Regions from separate parts of the Homo sapiens genome. Here region 2 is linked to region 1. The links come from fine-mapping of genetic effects on gene expression. A gene starts in region 1. The other region holds a variant in brackets. All regions are shown on one strand. Distances are between the middles of the regions.

What was found. PIP is the estimated chance that this variant, and not a neighbour inherited with it, causes the effect.
Region 2: its variant is the best candidate, but not a certain one, in a credible set for the expression of MMP11 in whole blood (TOPMed, PIP 0.62).

Annotation. Positions count from the first base shown.
Region 1 is chr22:23,771,140-23,774,147 of GRCh38, reverse strand. MMP11 (matrix metallopeptidase 11) reads right to left here and starts at 1,299. Exons shown (of 8, transcript NM_005940.5): 1 at 1,170-1,299. The coding sequence starts at 1,277. LOC107985577 (a long non-coding RNA gene) reads right to left here. Exons shown (of 3, transcript XR_007068022.1): 2 at 2,841-2,961; 3 at 1,771-2,279.
Region 2 is chr22:23,843,256-23,846,009 of GRCh38, reverse strand. No RefSeq gene overlaps it. Among named protein-coding and RNA genes, the nearest start is that of DERL3, 5.6 kb to the right of the region's middle. RefSeq lists an enhancer at 1,135-1,628. The variant A/G (reference allele first, on the strand shown) is at 1,388.

The DNA.
Region 1 (3,008 bases):
AGGGTCACATGGTTCAAACCCAGATCTCTCCAATTTCCAGACCTGTGGTTCAATGTCTACCCACAGTGATTCCTGACTCTGTCCCAAGTCCTAGGAACCAAGAGGGGCTGGGAAGGAGGCAAGACTCCAGACTGAGATGCCCCCCATTCACTCTACCCCACCCATCCCATCCCTTTCTGCTCCCATAGCCAGCACAGGACAAGGCTGCCCTGAGCAGAGCCAGAGTGGCTGGACAGAGGGTCCCAGCCTGGCCAGGCCTGCCTCCTCACCAGGCCAGTCCTGAGACTCCTGCCTGTCACACCCTCCTGCTCCCTTCCCTGCCCGAGCTGTCTGGATGCCTCCGCTGTGGAGTGGAGTGGCCCAGGCTCTGGCCCCAGGCCCTGTGACTGGTGCCTGGAAGCGCCCCAGGGAAGGGGCAGCTTTTGGGACACATGCAAGCTGTCACACACACTCCATGACAGTCCCTCCTCTCCTCACTCTGCTGTCCTCTCTTACCTGGGCTTTCTTCTCCTCTCCTGAGCACACATTTTCTCCCTTTCCTTTCTCTCCCCGCTTCTTTCTGACAGCCACCTCTCAGTCACACACACACTGCACTCATACTATTTCATACTCATGTTCTCCTGGCTCCAAGCCTCCCAAAACTGCTGCCGGCAGGTGCCCGCGGGGGACATCTCCAGGCTTAGACCCCATTTCCCGCAGCACAGCGCTGCCCTCCCTTCTCCCTTTATCCTTCATCCCACCGCACACCTGGAGGTGTACTAACTGCGGCCACACACCTGCAGGCTGACACCTGCCTGGGATCTGCTCGGCTTTGTCCCTGCGATGAATAGGGGGCCCTGTTACCACTCCCTCTGCTGCTTCCTTCAACGCACACTCCAGCACCCGCGGCTGGAGCGCGAGAGGCAGGTCCCCACGCTGGGAGCAAGCGTGAGTCCAGCGTGGAGTCCCGTCCCACCAGCCCGAACGATGCCGGCGCCGGCTCCCCTTCACACCCCCAGGGACTGCAAGCTCGCTGTCTATCACGCCTAGAGGGAACCAGAAAGCGTTTCGGGTACCGGGCGCTGGAGGCCACCCGGGGCGCCCCCTTCGGTCCGGATCCGCCGCTGGGCCCAGCCCGCGTGCCCGGCGCCCCCTCAGCGAGGAGCGGCCGGCGAGTGGCGGGCACTCACCGGCGGCAGAGCCCGGGCCAGCAGCGGCGGCGGCTGGAGCAGCAGCAGCAGCATCGGGGGCAGGAGGGCGCGCGCGGCCGCGCTGCGGAGCCAGGCGGCCGGAGCCATCCGCCCCGGGGCTGCTGGGCTTGCTGGGCCGCTCCGGGCCGCCGCCCCTTATAGCTTCCGCCCCACCCCCGGCCCGCCTCGGCCCCGCCCCCCGCCGCCTTTTGTTCTGAACTCTCCTAGCAGCCGCGGCCCGGGTGGGGGAGGTGAACGGGGAGGGTACGGCCCAGCGGGGTCGAGGGCCGGAGACAGGGTCCTGCCCCGGGGCTGGCAAAGTCCCTATCTGGTGCTGGGTGACCCTGGCCAACCCGTGCCGCTCTGGGTCTCAGTTTCTCCTCTGGGTGGTGGCCGTCCAAAGTCTTAGACTTGGCTAGAGTCTGAGAGGAGTCAGGTTTCATGGGTCCCATCCGTACCCCCACCTTTGGAAGGCGCATCCCACTGGGTCTCCTTGGTGGCCTGACCTCTGACCTCTGACAGGTGGTCCTACCCACAAGCAAGTTCCCCCACCCCTCAGAGCCTCAACGGATCCTTCTAGAAGATGACACAATAGCCCCTGTGAGGAAAGGGATATTATTTTATTTTTTATTATTATTATTTTTTGAGACACAGTCTCACTCTGTCTCCCAGGCAGGAGTGCAGTGGTGTGATCTCCACTCACTGCAACCTCCGCCTCCCAGGTTCAAACGATTCTGCTACCTCAGCCTCCCAAGTAGCTGGGACCACAGACGTGCGCCACCATGCCTGGCTAATTTTTGTATTTTTAGTAGAGATGGGGTTTCACCATGTTGGCCAGGCTGGTCTCGAACTCCTGACCTCAAGTGATCTGCCCACCTTGGCCTCCCAAAGTGCTGGGATTACATGGGGAAGCCATTGCACCTGGCCAGGAAAGGGATATTAAAATGTGTCCCAGGGGAAAGTGAGGCATATGGCAGGGACTGGCCAGTTCTTCAGCTTGGGATAGACCGAAGTTTACAGATAGGGAAACTGAGGCTCCAAGAGGGAGGGTCCAGGCTTTTCCACACCAGCAGACAAGTGGAGGGGTCAGGAGGTCCTCTAGCTGGTCAGCTGTGGGAAGGATGCTGTCAGAAGGCTGTGGGAGGTGTCTGAGTGGAGTACTGGGCCCCCAGGGTGTCCCCTCGTCAGTGCCCAACAAGCCCCTGGGGACCCCTCCAGGCTAGCCACCTCAGACTTGAAAGAAAGGAGGCGAGAGGCCGGGCGCAGTGGCTCATGCCTGTAATCCCAGCACTTTGGGAGGCCGAGGCAGGTGGATCACGAGGTCAGGAGTTGGAGAGCAGCCTGACCAACATGGTGAAACCCTGTCTCTACTAAAAATACAAAAATTAGCCAGGTGTGGTGGCACACACCTGTAAGCCCAGCTACTCAGGAGGCTGAAGCAGGAGAATCACTTGAACCCGGGAGGCGGAGGTTGCAGTGAGCCGAGATTGTTCCATTGCACTCCAGCCTGGGTGACAGAGCGAGACTCCATCTCAAAAAAAAGAAGGAAAGGAGGTGAGACTCAAAGGAGGGGTTGTGTCCACATTCTGGAAGGGATCCTTCAGTCTCATCCCTGATTTTCGGGGTTACCCAGTACTGCTGTACACCCCCTGAAATGATGAAGGGCCTCACCACCTCACCAGGCGACCTGTTCCATCATGGGTGGCCCTGCAGAGCCACGATCCAGGCAGTGGCTCGCATCCTGGCAGGCAGGGCTCTGAGCTGCTCAAAGGTGAGGCTGTGGTCAGGAAGCCTGGGCCAAGAAAGGGAAGCGGGTGGGGAAATGTTTCACAGCTTATT
Region 2 (2,754 bases), 72 kb before region 1:
TTTGTCCCTGCCTAGCACATCCCCTCCTCCTCCTGTCCTCATCAGGAGCTCTCCTGCCCCACGGCTGCCCTGGACCACTCACCAGTGCATTTCCACTCCCTGCTTGGTATGGGATTCAGTGTCTCCTCCCCTGGCCAGAAGCTGAGCTCCTGCAGGAAAAAGGCACCCACAGCGACTCCCTCCCCAGCCCTGCAGGCCTCTCTGGCTGTTCCTGACCATAGGCCCATGAAGGCTCCTGGCTGAGAGGAGACAGCGAGGAACAGATCCGGCAGAGAGGACTGGCAGGGGCCCTCCAGCTTCCTCTGTTGGTGCATTCTTGCTCATAAGCATTCACTTATTCATAGCAGAGATGGGCCTTGGATGGGGAGGCCAGCTGTGTTTGTTACAGGAAGGGGCTTCCACCCAGAAATCTCTGATACCCCCATTATAGATCAGAGTACAACCTTGGAGCTGAAAGAGACTCTACACATGGACCCTTCTGACCCGCATCTCACAGAGAGGGACACAGAGCCAGAGAGGGAAGGGAGTGCTCAGGTCACAATGCCAGCCCCGAGGCTGCATTTCCAGCCCTGGAGTCCAGGTCTCTGTCTTCACAAGTTTCCCTGTTTTTCCCTGTTTACCAAGCCCCTGCCTGTGCCAGCTCCGCAGCAGAAACCAGGCCTAGAGGGGCCATTGTGTGGACAACTGCAGCCCTTCTGCATGAAGCAGGAATGACCAGGGCCACGGAAGGGAAGGAGCTGGGAGGACTGGGCTAGAGGCCAGGGAGGGCTTCCACCCCACAGCACCCCAAGCTCACCTGCCTGACTCAACGAGTGGTCTCCCTCCCTTACTGGCCATTCACCCATGTCTCCACCCAGTGGGGGCTCACTGTCCCCCAAGCTGGGTAGGCCAGGACCCCTCCTACCTTCACCCCCACTACCAAGCATTCACTAAGGCCTGTGGCTTCAGCCATCCTAACCCTTCCACTCCCTCGCTGTTAATGCAAGCCACTGCAGGCCACCGCTCTCCTCCCCGGCTCATCTGATTAGGACAGAGACCACGGCCGACACACCTCTGCCTGGCCTGGCCCCGCTTCTCCCTCCCGTCACAAGCAACTCTTCTTCCTTGCCTCCTTCACCTTCTCTCCTCTGCTCCCTTCCTCTCCCCCAGTTACCTCAGGGCCTTTGCACAGGCCCTTCCCCTATCCTGGCCTAGCTAGTGCAACCCATCCTCTGCCCCATTCTGCTTCCTCCCTCCCCATCCCACCCAGAGACCAGCTTATTCCTGGAAAGTCCAGATTCTGCTACCAGGTTCAGAGGGCCAGGCCCAGGCCGCTCCCTCTGCAGCCTGACACAACCCACCTGGATGGTTTGTTGTTCTTGCGCTCCGGCCACAAGCAGCTGCTGCT[A/G]TGTGGGTTCCGGATTCAGTGCTAAAAATAGCCTGTGGCCCAGACAGGAAGGGCCAAGGGGGACACAGCTGTTTCTGGGAGGGGCTAGCTGGAAGCCTACTCACAGCAATTGCAGGGGTCCCTGTGCTCAAAGGGGGTGGGCCCCGTGCTCAAAGAGGGGAGAGGTCCCCCAATGGACAAGTGCTCAGGGCCCAAAAGGCACTATGTGTCATCAAGAAGAAAATACAGCTGCACCAGCAGGTACACAAACGTTCAGTTTGTTTGATTCTTGTGGTTAGTTACAACAGGCATGGACTGCCTTTAGAATAAAATATATTTAAAAATTAAGTGCTCAGGACTCTAACAGAAGTAGGTGAGCTCTGGTCCCTTTGAAGGTGACCAGGGAGGGCTTCCTGGAGTAGGAGGCACTTTCACCCTCTGCTCTTCCTCTCTTATTTTTTTAATTTTATTTATTTTGCTTTTAAGAAACATATTTATTTTATTATTTTATTATTTTTGAGACAGAGTCTTGTTCTGTCGCCCAGGCTGGAGTGCAGTGGCACGATCTTGGCTCACCGCAACATCCGCCCCCGGGGTTCAGGTGATTCTCGTGCCTCAGCCTCCTGAGTAGCTGGGATTACAGGTGCATACCACCTTGCTTGGCTAATTTTTGTATCTTTAATAGAGACAGGGTTTCACCATGTTGGCCAGGCTGGTCTCCAACTCCTGACCTCAGGTGATCCACCGGCCTTGGCCTCCCAGGGTTCTGAGATTACAGGCATGAGCCAATGTGCCCAGCCAGGAAACATTTTTTAAAAAATATTTTTAAGAGTCGGGGTCTCACTCTGTCACCCAGGCTGGAGTGCAGTGGTGCAATCTCTGCTCACTGCAGCCTTGACCTCCCAGGCTCAAGCGATCCTCCAGCCTCAGCCCCCTGGCTCTCTCCCCCTTCCCACTTGGGGCTACAGGCATGCACCAGCACGTCTGGCTAATTTCTGTATTTTTTGTAGAGATGGGGTTTCTGTATGTTGCCCAGGCTGGTGTTGAACTCCTGAGCTCAGGCAATCCGCCTTCCTCAGCCTCCCAAAGTGCTAGGACTACAGGCGTGAGCCGCCACACCCAGCCTTACTCTTTTTTTTTTTTTTTTTTTTAACAGAATGAATAGTTCAGAGAGCTGGGACAATATTAGAGGAGAGAACCTGAGGCCTGAATAAGAGTTAGTGGTGGTGGTAAGGCATAGGAGAGAAGGGAAAGGACTAGAGAGTTCCATGGGAGCATCAAGTGTGACATAGGGGGCCGGGCGTGGTGGCTCACGCCTGTAATCCCAGCACTTTGGGAGTCCAAGGGAGGATTGCTTGAGGACAGGGGTTTGCGACCAGTCTAAGCAA